Regions from separate parts of the Homo sapiens genome. Here region 2 is linked to region 1. The links come from fine-mapping of genetic effects on gene expression. A gene starts in region 1. The other region holds a variant in brackets. All regions are shown on one strand. Distances are between the middles of the regions. Region 1 holds the start of MAN2B2 (mannosidase alpha class 2B member 2). Region 2 overlaps MAN2B2 (mannosidase alpha class 2B member 2).

Evidence for each region. PIP is the estimated chance that this variant, and not a neighbour inherited with it, causes the effect. A credible set is the group of variants that fine-mapping cannot tell apart.
Region 2: its variant is the best candidate, but not a certain one, in a credible set for the expression of MAN2B2 in lung (TOPMed, PIP 0.64).

The regions. Positions count from the first base shown.
Region 1 is chr4:6,572,966-6,576,965 of GRCh38, reverse strand. It overlaps MAN2B2 (mannosidase alpha class 2B member 2), which reads right to left and starts at 1,777. Exons shown (of 19, transcript NM_015274.3): 1 at 1,618-1,777; 2 at 242-388. The coding sequence starts at 1,755. It overlaps LOC105374365 (a long non-coding RNA gene), which reads right to left. Exons shown (of 3, transcript XR_925098.3): 2 at 3,359-3,457; 3 at 2,628-2,775. RefSeq lists a silencer at 1,528-1,987 and enhancers at 1,276-2,044, 2,045-2,812, 2,813-3,581.
Region 2 is chr4:6,616,546-6,621,056 of GRCh38, reverse strand. It overlaps MAN2B2 (mannosidase alpha class 2B member 2), which reads right to left. Exons shown (of 19, transcript NM_015274.3): 17 at 3,565-3,677; 18 at 1,013-1,130. Among named protein-coding and RNA genes, the nearest start is that of MRFAP1, 22 kb to the left of the region's middle. The variant G/C (reference allele first, on the strand shown) is at 2,182.

The DNA.
Region 1 (4,000 bases):
GAGCTGGCAGTTTTTTCAAGAATAGACAGAAATTCAGGATTAAATTGAAAGCAATCTCTCCCAGGCATGGAACTCACCGTGAACCTTGATCTAAACAAGGCTGTGAATAGCCCGGTGGGGTTTTGGCCCTGTGGTTTATGCCAGCCTGGCCCTGGCCCTGGCTAGAACTGCCCCATTGAGTTTTCCACCTGGGTCTTTGCCAGGATACTGGGCCAACTGTGTCACCTGGTGACCTCATTACCTGGTATTTCTGCTGGTCCGAGGCGACGCCATCCCACCACAGCCGGAAAAACTCCTGCTCCACAGCGATGAACCGGCGCTGCTGGCCGCGGGCCAGCTCTTCCACCACTGAGGTGTAGACATTGGCGGCGTACGCCCGCATGCTTTCCTGGGGAGGGGACAGCATCATGCCAGCCCCGGTCCAACAAGACCAAGTGTCCCTGGGGCCCCTGCCATTCGCCAGGTGTGTCTGCATGGGGTTGGGGGCTCTGCCCTTCCTTCCCTGCTGCTCACCCCCCACACAGCTATTAGGCACTCGCTCCATACCAGGCTCTCCCCACTGGATGGGATCGTGCTCTCCTGGGGGAGAGGGACGGGGAAACAGACACCCTACATGGGCAGAGACAGGTGCCCTCCCAGCCCAGGGGTCAGGGACAGTTTCTCAGAGGGGTGAGCAAGCTGGGCCTTGAGTGTGCAATTTGGGGGGCTGGGCCCTGAGTGTGCCATTGAGGGGCAGCACAGGAAAGTCTTAGGCCTCAGTCGGGGTGTGGTCCAGTGACCCCAAAGGGGCCTGCTGGGGCTGAAATGAGGAAAGCTGGTGCTGAGAGGAAGAGCTCCCCAGGCTGTCCCTGGCGTCTAGGCGTCTGCCTCCCCAAGGCTGGGAGCTCCAAGGACCACAGCTGTAGTGTGTTCCCATCCGAGTCCCGAGGGCCCTGCACACAGGGTGCCCACAGAGTGCTTACATGAATGGAAGGAGCACCGAGCAGGGAGTCAGGAGGCATGAGGGTTATTCCCGAGCGACCTTGGGCAAGGCAGCAACCCTCTCTGGGCCTCGGTTTTCTCCTCTGGAAACTGGCTGTAGTGGGCATGCTTCCCCTACCCTTTACAGATGGGGAAACTGAGGCTTAGGGACCAAAGCCCCTCGCCCAAGGTCCTGAGCAGAACCAGGAGGTGACCACAGGTCCACCTTCACCCCTGTCCTGGGGGGCGGAGGACGCTGAGCTGGCCTCCAATATTCAGCCCCGCAGGGGACCAGCCCGGCCCCTTCCCAGCGGGCACCTGACATCCACCTGCTCTGAAGCCAGCCCCACCCTCTCCTGCTCCAGGCTTCCCTGGAAAATGGGTTACCACTGTCAACCCCCAAGCCCCTCCCCAGCCGGGAATGCAGGGGTCCCTCCAATCTGCACCACCCTCCAGAAGGGGAAATGGGGGTTCAGAGGCAGGAAGTGACTGGCCCGAAGTTAGCGACGCAACCAGTCAATGGCAGCGTGGGGTCCTGAACCCACTGAGCCTCCTTCTGCGCCGGCATCGGGCCCCGGGACGCAAACCCACACTCAGATCCCGCGGGGAGAGGGAAGCTGCAGCCTCAGGGGCGCGCGGGGCGTGGTCGGCACCTACCTGCACAGTGTAGACCCAGCCCACGTCCATGTGGCTGTGGGGCACCACGAAGGCCCGGATGGGGCCGGCGGACTGGACCCCTGGCGGTCGCAGCAACAGGAGCGGTGCCAGCAGCGGCAGCCAGCACAGCTGCCCCATCCCTGCGGCAGGCCGGGAAGGTGCCAGGCCCACTTCCGGGTCCGCGAGGGGCGGGGCGGCCGCGCGGGCGGGGACGCGGCCCATTGGCTGCGGGCGGGGGCGGGGCCCATTGGTTGCCGGCTGGACGCCGACCCCGGGAAGCTCGGGAAGGAGGAGCTGGAGGCGCGGGGCCCTCAGCGGGGCAGGGCGCCTGCTCTTTGCGGTTTAGCTCTCCATCCCCGTCTCCAGCTTTCTGGCCTTCCCTCCCTGTCCATCCTTTCAGCCCCATCTCCCCCAAGCCTGCCAGATCTCCCCCAACCAGAGGAGACCCCTCCTCGCCCAAAGCCCACGCTCTGGTGGTTCCTCTCGGAGCGTGTGCCTCTTCGCAATACCTGCATCCCGCCCTCTGGACTCGGCTCCGGGACTCTGAGGCTACCGTGCAAAATTCGGCTCAGCACGGACCCTGTGAGCTCTGCCACCAGGAACCTTCCCTGATAACCCTTTCCCTCCTCTCCCTGGCGTCGAAACCCCATCTGGGCGGCGCCATGGGGGGCTTGTTATGGGACTGTCTCCTTTTTTTTTTTTTGGACAGGATCTCACTCTGTCTCCCAGGCCGGAGTGCAGTGGCGCGATCAGGGCTCACTGCAGCCTTGACCTCCCGGGCCCAAGTGATCCTCCCACCTCAGCCTCCTGAGTAGCTGGGACCACAGGGGCACACTGCCACACCCAGCTAATTAAAAAAAAAATTTATAGAGATGGGGGCCTCACTATGTTGCCCAGGCTGGTCCCAAACTCCTGAGCTCAAGCGATCCTCCTGCCTCCGCCTCTCAAAGTGCTGGGATTACAGGCATAAACCAGCATGCCTGGCTCAACTGTCTCCATTTTAAGGAGGAGAACTGGCTTTCAGAGACAGTAACTGACTTGTCCAAGATCACGCAGTTAGTGGAGGAGCCAAGAGAAGCTTTCTGGGTTACTGGATGGTGACCTGGGGCGACATAGGTAACCTCGCTGAGCCTCAGTGAAATGGGTCCGATAGAGGAGCTGTGAACAAAGTAAGGATGCACCCAGGCTGAGAGCGTGAGCACAGCACCCCTTGCCTGCACTCAGGGGAGGTGCGGTCACATTGGTGCAGCCTGTTTGGGACTGTTGCCTGGAGTCAGCCCTGTCCACTACTCCCTGCCCAAGAAAGCAAGGGTCTGTGGCTTGGGGTTTACTGTCTGAGAACCACTTGGCTGTGCCCCTGCCTGGCATTTCCTAGCGGAACCAGAGCTGCAGCTCTGAGCAAAAGTGCTGGTCCTCTTGTCCATTATGTAACAAATGGAAACTGAGAACAGGTTCTCCAAGCAGGTCTCCCTCCTCCTTCTGTCCTGTCCACCCCCTGGGGACCCCTGCATCCCCATAGCCTCAGGTCAGATGGTCTGAGCCTGACGTGGACAGTACTCACTAACACATGTCCCCATGACCGGCCAGGCTCACAGCTGGGCTCCACTCTCCAGCCTCTGCAACCAGGTGCGGCCACGTGGCTAAGTGCTAGTCAATGGGATGGGTGGGGGCGGGCACTGTGCTCCTCTTCCAGGCTGGCCCCTAACAACCTCCTGTGGGTGAGCCCTGCTCTCTTACTCACCCACTGCTCCAGTGGAGGGCACTCCGAGGACCTCAGGGAGGTTAGAGCCACCAATGGAGGCTCTGAAGAACCACATGGAACCATGAGGAACCCAAAGAGCTGTGACAAGAGGGAGAAATAAGCTTTAATTGTGTTAAGCCACTGAGTTTATCGATAAGGCAGTGTCACAATCTTTGGCAGACTGTATCTGCCAAAGATGGGCTCCACAACATTACCCACCCCCCAAGCTCTTTGTAGAATTTGGTTGACGAGAAAAGCCACACTCTAAAATATCTCAGAACGTTTATTCTAAGCCAAATAGGAGTGACCATGGCCTGTGACACAGCCTCAGGAGGTCCTGAGAACAGGTGCCCAAGGTGGTTGGGCTATAGCTTTATACATTTTATGGGGACAGAAGTTACAGGCAAAGACATGAATCAATATATGTAAAGTATACATTGGTTTGGCCCAGAAAGGTGGGACATCTTGAAGTGGGTGGGTGGTGCTTCCAGGTCAGAGGAGGATTCAAAGATTTCCTGATTGGCAATTGGTTAAAAGAGTTAAGCTTTACCTGAAGAGTTGGAGTCGGCAGAAAGAAATGCTTGAGTTAAGACAATGGGGATGTGGAAGCTAAGGTTCTTGTTACATAGATGAAGCCTCCAG
Region 2 (4,511 bases), 44 kb before region 1:
ATCTGCTGTGGCTCCCAGCCTCCTTCTCACCACACTGCACCTGGCTACAGTCTGCTGTGGCTCCCACCGTGGCAACGGCCTATGGCATCCCCTTCTGCCAGGACTCCTGTGGGCCTCTTGGCGTTTCTGCCCACCCTGAGGGCAATTCATAGGTTGGTCCTGGCCCTAGTGGCCTCAATTCCTCATGGGTGTTGCCCTCAAAGCCCAAGAGCTTTCTGAGACCATCTGGTGAGTCTGCCCTTGCCTCACCAGGCTCCCCTGAAGGCATGCCCTGGGGTTGGGCTTCGATCTTGGGAGGGAGCCGTCCACTTATCTATCACTCATCCATCTTCCTTCCTTCTTTCCAACCAACATCATCTTCCCTCCCTCCCTCCCTCCGTCCCTTCCTTCCTCCCACCACCAACTGAGCGTGCACCATGCACCCGCCACCATGCTGTGTGTAGTGGACAACGAGCTGCACAGGACAGAAGAAACCCCTGGGGCCAGGAGAGTGGAGGAGGCACTTGGCCTGGTTGGTGACTCTGGGGAGGCATCCTGGGGAGCTTGAGCAGGTGCTGGCCAGAGTGAATGGGACCTGTGCGTCCCAGGCAGAGGGCATGGTGCGGACAGGGAGTGGAGCCTGGAAGCTGCCTGTAGTGCAGGAGCTCACGGTGGCACATGTCGTATGAGGCAGGGACCGGCTGATGGGCTGAGGTCAGCAGGGCCAAGGTGGGCAGAAGCCCCTGGGCCCCTAGCTGTCACCCAGGGCACAGGCAGGGCGTGTGGTCTGCGTGTGCACACGTACAAGTGCACACACACGCCTGTGTGGAGCCCTGGCAGGCAGAGACTAACCCAAAGCCTTTCTTAACCGACTGTAGTAGATTTGGGAGGGCTGCGGGTTCAGAGTAGGAAAGCAGCCTCGCAAGGTCGCACAGGCCGGGACAGGCAGATGGTTGGATGTGCACCGGGTCTGACCAGCTGCTGAGCCTGGCTGGGAGTCCTGGGTAGGGAGCTGAAGCGGGGGTCCCCAAACCTCTGTGGCGGCCAGGCCCCGTCCTCCAGCTCCAGCGGTGCAGCATGCTCAAATCCCAGGTCCCTGTGAGCGAGCGCTCCTCCACTGCCACCACGGACCCCAGCGCCTGCAGCACAGCCTGCAGGGAGAGGAGCAGAGGGAGAGTGAGCTGCACCAAGTTCCAGAGCTGAGCAGAGAACCAAGACAGCAGCAGGGCAGACACACCACGAACTCGGTGTCCTCAGGAGCCCAGGTCCTCCCCTGGTGCCTGACACAGCTCCCTCATCTGCTTCTCACAGCACATCTGCGAGGACAGGACTGGCCGTGTACTTTACAGATGAGGACACTGAAGCGGGAGGTGCATGCTTTACCAGGTGGCCGAGCTGGAGGAGCAGCCCGGGAGGTGTGGCATTTTGAGCTGCCCACCCCACCGCGGAGTTCTCCTCTCCCCACATTGCTCAGGTGGCCCCGTGCCCAGTCCAGGGAGGAAGCCAGCCACAGTTACCCCATCCCCCTTTCCCAATAGGCCTTGTCCCAGCCTCCCTTACACCTAGGGGAGGCAGGAGGCCCTTAGGGGTCTGGAAAAGTCTGTGGAGCAGGAGGGCTGGGGGTGGCTCTTGGAGAAGCTTCTGTGTGCTGACGGAGGGAGAGAGCCACGCTAGGGCAAGGCCTTTCTGGCCACTACTGCTGAGCCCTACCCTGCCTTGAAATTTGCTCATGAGGGAGGCCTGTGCCATCTTGTGACCGCAAACAAGCAGACGGCAAAAGACAAAAGCCAGTCTGCCGGCGATGGCGGGAAGATGACAGTGATCGGGCCCACGGTGACAGCGCTTGGGGTCCATCGGACATGCCTGTTCGGTGAGAAAACACTCTGTCCTCTGTTCTAAGCACATCTGTTAGGTGTTTTGTGACTTGCAGCCAAACTCACTGCGTTCCTAACTCAATGGTCTTTCCACCCCACCACCGTCCACGTTGGGCAGGGAGTCATGGTGTCCATCCCAACCGTCTCCTTGTCTCAGGGCCTTGGTGCTTCCATCTGTGAAACGGGGGAGCATCAGATGACCAACTTCCAGGTCCCACGCTGGCCTCCTTGCTTCCCAGGGCAGGCTGGCCCTGTGCTGGGCACTGGTACCCGCCATGGCCTAGACCTGCTCTCAGGCAGGCCAGGGACCGTGAGGAAAGGATCCTCC[G/C]TGGCGAGGATCATGAAAGAGGAGGTGGGTGGCCCAGTAAGACATCATGGCGAAAAGGTACTGGGGCTTCTCTGGATTCCCCTGAAGACTCAGATGTCGAAGGAGGCCCAAGGCAGAAACACAGAGATTCACAGAAATTCTCCATGAGCAGGAAATGAAATAGAAAGAATGCAAACTGGGAAAGAAATGAGGCGGCTCAGGTCATGCCTTCTGGGGAGGGAGCGTGGGCAGGCCAGGTGGCGGAAGCCTCGCCTGATAGTAGAGCTGAGAGGGCAACATCAGCCAAGAGGGGAACCTGGAAGGGGACGAGGCCTGGGGGCCCTGACACTGCACGAGGCCCCTTAGTGCCAGGGCCTCTCAGCAACCTTCTGGGCAAAGAACTCTCACCTCTCCCCATTTTACATGGGGGGAAACTGAGGCCCAGAGGCATGGGGTGCCGGAGATGCCCCCGTAGAGGGGCCTGGGTGTGGACCCTGGATTGTCTGACTCTAAGTCACCTTTCAAAGCAACTCTATGGGGAATCTGTTTTGTTTTTGGATTACACAGATGTTGTCTGTGTTTTAAAAGTTTTACCACAGAATAAATAAGAAAGAAAATACAGGCCACTCACGCCTGTAATCCCAGCACTTCAGGAGGCTAAGACAGGCAGATTGCTTGAGGCCAGACGTTCGAGACCAGCCTGAGCAACACAGCAAGACCGTGTCTCTACTAAAAATAAAAAAACTAGGCCAGGCTTGGTGGCTCACGCCTGTAATCCCAGCACTTTGCGAGGCCGAGGCAGGTGGATCACCTGAAGTCAGGGGTTCGTGACCAGCCTGACCAACATGGAGAAACCCTGTCTCTACTAAAAGTACAAAAAAATTAGCCGGGCGTGGTGGCACATGCCTGTAATCCCAGCTACTCGGGAGGCTGAGGCAGGAGAATCACTTGAACCTGGGAGATGGAGGTTGCAGCCAGCTGAGAGCGCACCATTGCACTCCAGCCTGGGGGACGAGAGCGAAACTCGGTCTCAAAAAAAAAAAAAAAAACTTAGCCATCGTGGTGGCGCGCCCCTGTGATCCCAGTTACTTGGGAGGTTGAGGTGGGAGGATCACTTGAGCCAGGGAGGCAGAGGTTGCAGTGAGCTGAGATTGTGCCACTGCACCCCAGACTGGGCAACAGAGTGAGATCCTGTCTCACATATACACAAAAAACCCTAAAAAACCAGGCCAGTTGTAATACCTGACAAACCCAGAAGACCATGAAGAAGGGCGGGGTGGGGCCCATACCAGCGTCCATTTGGGAGGAAGCCCTCGTGGATCTCTTTGCCAAGGCAGTTTCTTGGGGCTTCATCTAGGGTTTGCTTCCCTGGCTTATGGTCTGGATGGGGGTGGGGAAGTTCACCTCCAGATTCACTGTCACTGGCTGAGACAGGACTGGGTCCTCGCCCACTTCATATAGGTGGTAGAGCCGCAGCAGGACACGGCGGAGGTCAGCCTGGGCTTCCCCTCGATGGCCTTTGGGGACAGAAGGAAGGTGGCAGTGAAGACCCTCATCAACCAACCCCAATGTCCCTGGTCTATACCCGCTGCTTTACACACTCAGCTCCATTTCCTATCTGTAACCTCCTCGATATGGTTTGGCTGTGTCCCCAACCAAATCTCATCGTGAATTGTAGCTCCCATAATGTCCACATGTTGTGGGAGGGACCTGGTGGGAGGTAATTGAATCATGGGGGTGAGTCTTTCCTGTGCTGTTCTTGTGATAGTGAATAAGTCTCATGAGACCTGATGATTTTGTAAAGGGCAGTTCCCCTGCACACGCTCTCTTGCCTGCCACCATGTAAGACGTGACTTTGCTCCTCATTTGCCTTCTGCCATGATTGTGAGGCCTCCCTATCCAGGTGGAACTGTGAGTCCATTAAACCTTTTTTCTTCATAAACTACCCAGTCTCGGGTATGTCTTTATGAGCAGCATGAGAACAGACTAATAGACTCCATGTGAGACAGCTGACATGGCCCCCACTCGACAAGGAAACCAAGGCTCAGAGAGGGGCAGTCACGTGCCCAAGGCATACAGCTGGTGCGCGGCAGAGGGAGGATTCCCACCCAGGTCTGGCCGACTGTAAGGCTGCCCACCATGACACCAGCTGCAATGTTTCCATCCTCGTCCACTGTTGTGGGCATATTGGGGCATGTCCTCAAATACTCCAGTCTCTCCTACCCTGCCCCCTTTGAAGTCAGGGGAGGCTGCGTGGCCTCTGTGGCCAATGCAAAGTGAGCTGAAGTGACGCAGTACTTCCCGGCAGAAGCTTTTTCTTGCCATGGTGAGTGAGGAAGCACGTGCTGCAA